2 separate regions of the Homo sapiens genome follow, and region 2 is linked to region 1. Evidence: fine-mapped expression QTL. Tissue or cell type: ileum. Region 1 holds a variant in brackets; the other region holds the start of a gene. All regions are shown on one strand. Distances are from middle to middle.

Region 1 (5,705 bases):
TTTCAAGGGAAAAGAATCCAAGTCTCTTTCCATTTCTATTTTAGCCCACAGGGGCAATCTCACTAGGGAAAGGATCCATTTTTTGCTTTTGGATTTTCTTCCTCTGGATTCTACACACGATTCCAATTCCAACTAGATTAGAGAAATAAACAACCGGTGGAGAAGAAAATCGCTCAGATAGCAGACAAGGGCCAGAACTGCCTGCCACTAGCAGTTGGAGGCAAGCCAAAATATTTGATAAGAGGTAGCTTCCTGAGTTAGGGATCCCTGAGGGTGGAGGCTGACAAAGATGAAGGGATTAGAGAGAAGGGGAGGGAAAAGGAGGGAAGAGGAGGAGATGAGGGGGCAGGAGAGAAAAGGGTAAGAAAAGCTAGAAAAACAGTCAAAAAACCCAATCAGAGTGCTGAGCCAGCTTACAGTCCTGCCTTGCCTACCCCCTATCCCCACCCATGTGGACTTTACACTAGGTTGCATAATTACACCAGCAAAGTGCAGCCTCTGCCACTGGTTAAAAGGGAAAGCGTGCCAGGCTCCAGCCTATGGGACCGTTGTTCTGCTGCCACCTGGAAATCCTCCCAGAGCTCAAAGCCTGCTGCTCTGGGCAAAGCTGACAAGGAAGGACAGATTCAGCAGCCAACCAAGGAGCATACCTTCATTTGATTTCCTTAAGGCAAAAGCACTGGCTAAACAAAGGGAGACTATCTGGGAGAAGGTGTTTTCACCCTTTCAAGCTGGGGTGCTTTCACCACCGGGAAGTGCCACGCTGCTTTCCACGCTGGAACAAGGTACTGTGGTTTCAAAGTTCAAGGCTCTGTTTCAGGGATGGGAAGGAAAAAAAAATCAGTGAAAGAAGGTGTTCTGGTCTCTCAGGCAGAACCATTTGTTATTTGATTCCAGAGCTCATGTAATTTTTAAATACCACACTATGCATTTTCATTACTAAATGCATTCATTTTCATCCTCAAGAAAAGTGTATGCCCCCTTCCGCCTGCTTTACATAATATGGCTTGAGCGCTTGTAAAAATGGATGGGCTGTAGCTCTGAGTTCTGCCATTGTGCTATTGACTGGAGCTCCTGGTTACTATCACCAGATCTATGGGTGGATCAGCCATTCTTCTGCAGCAGGGAGTGGACCGACTCAAAGCACTTAGCACCATTTAAACTTTTGTCCATCTCTGTTTTTATGCACACAAAGAGTTTCCTGGAAACATGGCTATCCTCCAAGGATTTCAGAGAGTAGAATTCTTCCAGAACTGCAGTGTCCCAATCACTTGGAACCTCATGAGAAAGCAGACTTAAACTCAGACCCTAGAACCTCGAACTTAGTATGTTCCAAAAGCTTTGGCTCTGCCATTTACCAACTGTGTAATTTGGGGAACATTGATTCATCACCCTAAAGCTTCATTTTCTTCATCTATAAAATGAGATACATATTAGCTATCTTGTCTTGCATAACAAATTACCCCAAAACTCAGTAGCTTAAAAGAACGTTTATCGTCTCAGTTTCTGTGGGTCAACTCTCTGGCATTGGGTCTCTTATAAGACCACAGTCATCTCAAGCTCAGTTGGGACAGATCTGCTTCCTGCCTCACTCACCTCGTTATTGTTGGCAGGACTCACTTCCTAAGGCCTTGGTTCCCCAGGAGCTGTTGGCCAGAAGCCTCCCTCGGTGCCCTGCCTCATGGGCCTCTTCGTTGAGCATCTCACAACGTGGCAGCTTACTTCATCAGTGCAAGCAAGCAAGAGCAAGAGAGAGGACTCACCAGAGACAGTAATAGCAAAACAGAAGGCACAGTCTTTCGTAATCCAATCACAGATGTGACATCCCATCACTGTTGCCACATCCTGTGAGTTAGAAGTAAGTCATTAGGTCCAGCCCACACTCAAGGAGATTACACAAGGATGTAAAGACCAGCAAGAGGATCATTGGGAGCTATTTTAGAAGCAGCCTACTCTAAGATAATAATAACATCTAGGGTTTGTTTAAAATTTAAATTAGAGACTGCATGGTGGCAGCTACTTGGGAGGCTGAGGTGGGAGGCTCACTTGAGGCCAGGGGTTTGAGGCCAGCTTGGGCAACATGGTGAGACTCCTCCATCTCTTAAAAAAAAAAAACAAATATATGTGTATATTTTTAAATATTCAAAAATCAAATTAGAGAATATGTTCAATTCGGGCCAGCATATGTTATGTAATATATAACTGTTATATATAATAACTATTATTACCATTAATATTATTATTGACTATATAATGGCTGGTTTTCTCCCCTAGCTCCTAGAAGGAACCCTTTTATGAGGAGTAAATGAAATAATATACATAATTCAGGACCTGACATGTAGTAAATGCTCAATAATCATTAGTTATTGTTAACATTATTAATAGCCGGGCACGGTAGCTCACGCCTGTAATCCCAGCACTTTGGGAGGCCAAGGCGGGCGGATCACAAGGTCAGGAGATCGAGACCATCCTAGCTAACACGGTGAAACCCCATCTCTACAAATACAAAAAAATTAATTGGGCATGGTGGCGGACACCTGTTGTCCCAGCTACTCAGAAGGCTGAAGCAGGAGAATGGCATGAACTCAGGAGGCGGAGCTTGCAGTGAGCAGAGATCACGCCACTGCACTCCAGTCTGGGCAACAGAGCGAGACTCCATCTCAAAAAAAAAACCAACATTATTAATAAACATGTGATATTTGATATTCTCTCCAAGCTACTGGAAGGAAATACTATGAACTCTCATTACTTTTCCAGGGTGGCCTTATTTCCATATGTTTTGTTCAGTTTTTCCATTAGCACCCTATACTCACCAGAGCACAATTCTAGATTTGGGGTTCATAAAATATGACCACCAAATCCATAACACAGTCTAATTTCCTGCCTGCCCTATACCAAGAAGGGTATGCACAAAACCAGCAAAATGGGCTAATTATGGCAGCACCTCCTATATGCACAAAAGTCTGAGCCTGGCCCCAACCAGAATCCAGACAGAAGGGATTGTGCCTGGGAGAATGAACAGA[G/A]ACTTCGCTATGTGACCTTTGTCCCTTTTAAAATATGGTCATCATTGTGCAGTCTACTCAGTCAATCCTCAACTAAGAATGAGAGAAAGAGGGACCTACACAGGCCCTACAGATGGGATAAGGGTGTCCAAGAAGACATTTTCACACCTGGGTTGGAAGTAATAAGAACCCATAAAAATAAAGAGCAATTTTGCAATTAGAAAGTTGGAAGAAGAGAGTCCAGTTTGCAACATGAAAGAAAGATCATAAGAGGCTGGAGTCACCCTTTAGGGCTGGGTTGAAGCTGTCTTCCTTATAAAGGTGGAGGATATTGAGGGTTGGCCTGTGGCCAGGAAAAATGAGGAACTATAATCAAGAAAACCCCATTATTTTTGCTTTGAGTCATTTCTCAGGGCTCACCCATAATTATTACATAAGAAAGACAGAAAAAACAAAAACCTCCTAAAGTGTAAATGATCCTTAAACTAAAAACACCGTAGAAATACAAAGATCCAGGCCGGGTGCGGTGGCTCATGCCTGTAATCCCAGCTACTTGGGAGGCTGAGGCAGGAGAATCACTTAAACCCGAGAGGCGGAGGTTGCGGTGAGCCGAGATAGCACCATTGCACTCCAGCCTGGGCAACAAGAAAGAAGAAACTCTGTCTCAAAAAAAAAAAAAAAAAAGAAAAAAGAAAAGAAAAGAAAAGAAAAAGAAAAGAAAGAAATACAAAGATCCAAGTTTTTGCAACTTATCTGTCTCTCTCTCTCTCTGTCTCTGTTTCTTCTTCTCCCACCCATATTTGCACATGTTCTTTCATTTCTTTTCCGCACAGAAGAAAACTACCCTTACAAGGAAATGCCTTAGGATCCTCCAGGCTGGAATTGTTTTCAGATCAGGAATCATCTTCTCTAGCAGTCTCCACTGCAGCTCTACAGGATTAGAGCTCAGTATTCACAGATAATGACAGTTTACACCTCTCCCTCTAAATCAAGTCACCTGTGCAGCTGTGATTTAAAGAGTTCGGATGATTTTCTGAGCTGCACTAGCCCTGGCCCTTTCCTCTCCCGAAATGTTCCCAAACATTACCAGATTTGTACACAGAAAGGCTCAAAGCAGAAGTTGCTGGGAAAGTTCTGTAAACATGAAGGGGAGATGTACACCAATATCAAGTTCCTCTTCCTGTGGCTCTGGTTTTCTCTCCTTCCTATTCTCTATTCTGTGTTTCCTCTGTGTCTGGGACAGAGGAGACTTGTATGTTTCCATACCTGTTAATAGCCAGAGAAAACTTTGTTCGGTCCCTTGGCAGGTTAGCGGATTTTAGAAGGGAAAGACAGGGTAAAGAGATGAGGACTCGCCCCCAGGAAGTCTGACTATACAATAGGAATGGTGTATTTATTTATTCAGCCCTTTCCTACACTGCAGTCATTTCATTTCACCCTCAGGATGTGTATTTAGTGGTAAGCTTTCTTTCTTTTCCTGTTAGTTTCCTGCAAAAGGACATCAGTGTCTTCCTCATTGGAGCAGCTGATAAGAAGGATGTTGTTGCTCAAATAGAGACAGAAAAACATATTTCCTATCACAGACCCAGGCCATCCCAAGGGCATGGAGAATTAGACCAGGTTGTGGAAATAATAGAAGAACCTGATTTTCATGCCTATTTCCCTGGTGCCATCTTCCTCCCTGAAATACTCTGCAATAATTACACCTTCCACTTAAGTAGGATTTCACACTTTTCCAAAGTAGCATCACGTTGTACGGAAGTAGAGTTGGCTGCACTGTAGCTGGCATAGCCTATTAGTTACTTTGGAGGGTTTATATGAAGAGGCAACTTTGGGTTTAACTTTAAGTTTTGGGGAACTCATACAAATAGCATAGGTTTACCCTAAGTTGGATTCCATTTGCTAGCTCCTGCCTCTCCTACAGATCTCATCTTCAAAGTTACTATTATAGGGGAGGCTTCCTGTTATCCCTCTCCCAGCCACATTGAGTTGGGTGCCCCTCTTATACACACTGCATTTCCACTTTGGATACACATATCCCGTGGGTAAACTTGCTCAGTGCCTAGCCATCCAGCAACATGTCGGCACTGTAATACCAGGGACAACAACCTTCCTGCTCATGGCTGCCTAGCATAGGGCCTGGCCCACAGTAGTTCACTAAATATTTAGTGAATGAATGAGTGAGTCAGGAATTGTCTCTAGGAGTAGCCTTGCCACCTGACACAATCACTTATTTTGGGGTAGTGCTCTGGGAGTTATAAAAAAGGCCTGTGCTAATTATCACATAATGATCACCGGTGGTTATAGTATTTAGTAGGCAAAAGCACAGTGGTGGAGTATGACTAAATAAAGGTCTCCTCCAGGTGGGGGGCTATCCCCGCACTCTGAATTTGGAACCCCACTGCCCATCTCTCTTGGACTCCTGTGGACAGGGTCATTCCTTTGGGAAATTCTTTTCGGAGTTGCCAACACTGGGGAACAGGGAGAATTAAGCTCCATTTCCCCAAACTCAATGAAGTCTTTCTGATATGAAAATTAAATTAAAGAACAAGGCCAGTGGTGGCCCTCTGTTGCTTTCCTTTCAGCCTCTGAGACAGATTTCCCCATCAAGGGTCTGCGCTGAGTCATCCCGCCTCCAGCGGAAACAAGTCAGCAGCACCCTGAGGATGGGTGATGGAGGTAAAGACTCATCCTGCTAATCTC
Region 2 (5,345 bases), 94 kb after region 1:
TTCTCAAAAAAAAAAAACAAAAAAAACTTAAGGAATAGTTATTATCATCCGATATGATGGCTTATTAAGAAGGAAGGGAACACATGATAGGTCTGTTTTGAAAAGGAATGGGGACAGAACAAAATGTTACACAAGGTCTGATCAAAAGAGGCTTGTTCTGGCTTGTCTTTGTCTGTCTTGGAGTCACGGGACAGGTGTAAGGCCAAATTGTGCACTTCCCAGTCATGTTACCTTGGGCAAATAATTTGAAATCTGTAGTTTCCCAATCTGAAAATTGAGTCTGATACCTGTTCTAATTTAGTGTTGATTGATATGAACCTCAAAATTAGAAACGTATGAAAGTTCTTTGCAAACTAAAATATATGTGTGAGGAATTGTTATTATTAGTTTAGAGGATGGACTGTTGTCCTTAGAAGGCAAGTCTCTGGGTCCTACAGTTAGATGCACTGGGCGCTTCGGGAAGAATTTAGGGCTATGGGGTACTCAGCAATTAAAAGAGAGGGTGCTTAGAGAAGAAAGAAAGGACTTATTAATGGAGTTTGGAGGCTCCTTATTATCGAAACTTACACATTACGTGACCAGCATTATGAGGCAGCACCCCACTCCCAACAAATAGCCCTCTAGAACCAAAAGCAGAGTGGCAGGTCCGGGGTCCTTTTGTACATAGACAGCATAAAAAATTGACTAAGTCAATCCTGGCATAACTGCAGACCAGGCCCTGGAATGAGCAACCCACCAGCATTATCTGCATTTCTAGGAACTTGGGCTAGAAGGGGAGGAATGGGGTTGGAAGGGTTAGGCCACATGCCTCTAGTTAAAACCTGATGAACTTCCTAGATCCCCAGCTGGAAAACGTAGGAGTTGGACTAAATTCCTCTCCTGCCTCTAATATTTTATGAATACAGAACTCAACTCAAACTGGGTAGTATCTCAGAGATTCCAAATTTAGTTCCACTTTTCTGTTTGCTTATCAGTCGCTTACCCTCACCCTCTGGTCTGATACCTTTATCCTGTACAAGTGGTCAAAGTAGGTTGAGTAACATGTGCTAAAAGGAGTAATATCTTGCATTCTCCCTTGTTATTAAAATAGAGGAAACTGCCTTGAAAGAAAAGACTAAAAAGCAATAAGCCTTAGTATCAGTATCTTCTGAAAGCTTTAAAAAAATAATACTCTCATCTCTACCAACAGATTTGGATTCTGAAGTTCTGAGGTGGAGTCCAAGAGTGTGCAGTCAGCTTCTGGGGTGGTGTTTGTTAGATACAGTTTTTTGTTTATTTATTTATGTTTGAGACAGGGCCTCACTCTGTCACCCAAGCTGGAGTGCGGTGGCACAGTCATGGCTCACTGCAGCCTTGCCTCCCAGGCTCAAGCAATCCTCCTGCCTCAGCGTCCCCAGTAGCTGGGACCACAGGTGTGCACCACCATGCCTGGCTAATGTTTTAAAACTTTTTTTTGTAGAGACAGGGTCTTACTATGTTGTCCAGGCTGGTTTCAAACTCCTGGAATCAAGTGATCTTCCTGCCTTGGCCTCCAGAAATGCTGGGACTATGCCTGGAATAGATATGGGTAAAGAACCTTTTACATCAGACTCTTGTGTCCTACTCCCAGAATGCTGATTCAGTAGCCTGCAAGTGAGGCCTAGAAATCTGCATTTTCACAAGCTCTCAGGTTTAATACACAATACATTTAAAGAAAGCACAGCCCAAAGGGTGTCAGTGGGGTGTATGAAGGAAGCCTGGTTAGTGGGGAGAGTGGGATTAGGGAACAGCTGCTTAACCTGGCTTGTTTCAAGTCCCCCTTTCTCCCTTTTTGCCCTCAAAAAGTTCCCCTCATTTTTTCCCCTCTACTTTCTAATTTTTTACCATGCACTCACACAGCTATACAGCTATCTCCAGAGATTACTCTGGAAACTCTGCTATAAAGATGACCTGGTCTAATGCCTTGATTTGTTTTTTTTTTTTTGAGACAGGGTCTCACTCTCCTGGAGTACAGTGGCGTGATCATGACTCACTGCAGCCTTGACCTCCTGGGCTCAAGCAATCCTCCCACATAGCTGGGAGCATAGGCACATAGCACACCACTCTCGGTTAAATTTTTTTTTTTTTTTTTTTTTTTGTAGAGATAGAGTCTCACTATGTTGCTCAGGCTGGTCTTGAACTCCTGGACTCAAACAGTCCTCCCACCTTGGCCTCCCAAAATGCTGGGAATACAGGCATGAGCCACTGCACCAGGCCTAATGTCCTGATTTTATAAATCCCAAAACTGGGGCCCAGAGAGAAGAGAAATCATTAAGATCACCATACTGCTTGGTATCTAAAGTAGTACTGACCCTTTTGACACCTAATCCAAAGTTTTTTCAGCTACCTCAGGTTGCCCCTCATCTTCCAGCTGACACCATCCAGCACCTTTCAGATACTGGCAAAGGAGCAGTGTTTCAAAATTACTTTCCAAATGGCCTCCTAAAAGGCAGTCCTCAGAGAGAAGCAAGGTTCTGCATCTTAAGCCTTCCTTGGTTTCTTAGGTTCCAAAGCTGTTTCTATCAGTCTCCAAGCAACCAACTCTTTAGAATTCCATGAGTCTACTCAGAGAACTTGTGGGTTCAGTCGGGGGTATATCTTCAACCATTTATTAAATTTCCTTCTTTGTAAACTGAGCTTTGAGAAATTGCATCTTATTTATTGATTATTTATTGAATGGTAGTTTCATGGAGTTTTTGGTCTTTTTTCTTTTTTGAGACAGTCTCACTCAGTTGCCTAGGCTGGAGTGCAGTGGTGCGATCTCGGCTCACTGCAACCTGTGCCTCCCAGGTTCAAGCAATTCTCCTGTCTCAGCCTCCCATTACAGGCCACACCACCATGCCCCACTAATTGTACTTTTAGTAGAGATGGGGTTTCACCATGTTGGACAGGCTGTTCTCAAACTCCTGACCTCAAGTGATGTGTCCGCCTTGGCCTCCCAAAGTGCTGGGATTTGCAACTGTGAGCCACCACACCTAGCCTCTTGGTCATTCTTTGAAAAATAAACCTCAGCCAGGCGCGATGGCTCACGCCTGCAATTTCAGCGCTTTGGGAGGCTGAGGTGGCGGATCACCTGAGGTCAGGAGTTAGAGACCAGCCTGACCAACATGGTGAAACCCCATCTCTACTAAAAATAGAAAATTTAAAAAGAAAATCACCTGGGCCTGGTGGCGCATGCCTGTAATCCCAGCTACTCGGGAGGCTGAGGCAGGAGAATCGCTTGGACCCAGGAAGCAGAGGTTGCAGTGAGCCAAGATCAGGCCATTGCACTCCAGCCTGGGCAGCAAGAGTGAAGTGCAGTCTCAAAAGATAAAAATAAAAAAACCCTCTAGATATATGCAGCTCCATATTCTCCCACCACAAGGGTTTATAAATCCTGAGAAAGAGGCAAAGCAGGGAACACATGACCACATAGTTCTGGCAGGCGTCAGATTACCAGGCTGATAAAACAGATGGTAAAGTAGAAGCTGTCCGTCGACTTTTCCATTCCCCTTTCAGCTCCTCCACTGCTACTTAATCTCCTTTGCCCACACAGTTCAATCCCATTTTCCCTGATCTCTAAATCCTGGCTAGATTATTAGCCATTAACACTAGCTTTTACAAGGAGACTCTTCAATCTTGTATTTCTAATAGTATAATTTCACACGTACAGAAATTCTTTAAGTCATAGAAGTCTTACAGATACAGAAATTCTGATCTTCAAGAGTCCCTTTGTGAAACAAACTAATTTATCCTGACAGCAGGAAAGATTTCTGGGCCTAAGGCTCTGTCTCGTTGACCCAGGTCATGCTATTCAGGTGGTCCATCTCTTGGTTCCAAGCAAGACTGCTGCTGCTGACCAACCTGAATATGGACTTTAGCACTTGAGCTCAAGCTGCACTCAGATGGTTAGACCCCCATAAAAAGCAGAGGGTACGTTTTCTGTTATGAAAAGTAAAGACTGAGCCAGGCGCTGTGGCTCACGCCCATAATCCCAGCACTTTGGGAGGCAAGTTGGGCGGATCACGAGGTCAGGAGATTTAAACCATCCTGGGTAACACGGTGAAACCCCATCTCTACTAAAAATACAAAAAAATTAGCCAGGCGTGGTGGCAGGCGCCTGTAGTCCCAGCTACTTGGAGGCTGAGGCAGGAGAATGGCATGAACCCGGGAGGCGGAGCTTGCAGTGAGCCGAGATTGGGCCACTGCACTCCAGCCTGGGCGACAGAGCAAGACTCCATCTCAAAAAAAAAAAAAAAGAAAATTAAATACTAAAAAAATTAAACATTATAACCCTGCTAAGGCAGGAGGATCATTTGAGCCCAGGAGTTTGAGGCTGCAGTGAGCTATGATGGCACTACTGCACCCCAGCCTCAGTGACAGAGGGAGACCCTGTTTCTAATAAATCAAAACCCTGTTGAAGGTTCCTCAAAAAATTAAATATAGAATTACTATGTGATCCAGCAATTCTACTTCTGGGTACATATCCAAAAGAATTGAAAGCAGGGACTTTAACAGATATTTGTATACCCATGTTCATAGCAGCATACTCACAATAGCCAAACGGTGGAAAGAACCCAAATGTCCATCAGTGAATGAATGGATAAACAAAATGTGGAAGATACATACAACAGAATGTTATTCAGCCTTAAAAAGGAATGAAATGGGCTGGGCGTGGTGGCTCAGGCCTGTAATCCCAGCACTTTGGGAGGCCGAGGAGGGTGGATCACCTGAGGTCAAAAGTTCAAGACCAGCCTGGTCAACATGGTGAAACTCCATCTCTACTAAAAATACAAAAATTAGCCAGGCGTAGTGGCAGGCGCCTGTAATCCCAGCTACTCAGGAGACCGAGGCAGGAGAATCTCTTGAACCCAGGAGGCAGAGGTTGCAGTGAGCCAAGATCTCGCCATTGTGGTCCAGCCCGGGCGACAGAGCGAGAGTTTATCTCAAAAAAAAAGAAAGAAAAAAAAAGAAAAAGGAATGAAATGGGCCAGGTGCAGTGGCTCACGCCTATAATCCCAGCACTTTGGGAGCCTGAGGCGGACAGATTACTCAAGGTCAGGAGTTCGAGACCAGCTTGGCCAACACAGTAAACCCCGTCTCTACTAAAAATACAAAAATTAGCTGGGCATGGTGGCACACACCTGTAGTCCCAGCTACTGGGGAGGCTGAGGCAGGAAATCACTTGAACCCAGGAGGTTGCAGTGAGCCAAGCAAGATTGCACCACTCCACCCCAGCCGGGCAACAAGAGTGAAACTCTGTCTCAAAAAAAATGAATGAAATGGCTGTGTGAGGTGGCTCATGCCTATGATCCCAGCACTTTGGGAGGCCGAGGTAGGAAGATTGC

What was found. PIP is the estimated chance that this variant, and not a neighbour inherited with it, causes the effect.
Region 2: HEATR4 starts here. The variant in region 1 is fine-mapped to the expression of HEATR4 in ileum (GTEx, PIP 0.93).

What each region holds. Positions count from the first base shown.
Region 1 is chr14:73,461,879-73,467,583 of GRCh38, forward strand. LOC101928143 (a long non-coding RNA gene) reads right to left here and starts at 1,764. Exons shown (of 3, transcript NR_135251.1): 1 at 1,597-1,764; 2 at 651-811. RefSeq lists enhancers at 1,713-1,802, 3,063-3,292. The variant G/A (reference allele first, on the strand shown) is at 3,024.
Region 2 is chr14:73,556,421-73,561,765 of GRCh38, forward strand. HEATR4 (HEAT repeat containing 4) reads right to left here and starts at 2,527. Exons shown (of 18, transcript NM_001220484.1): 1 at 2,331-2,527. RefSeq lists an enhancer at 3,359-3,528.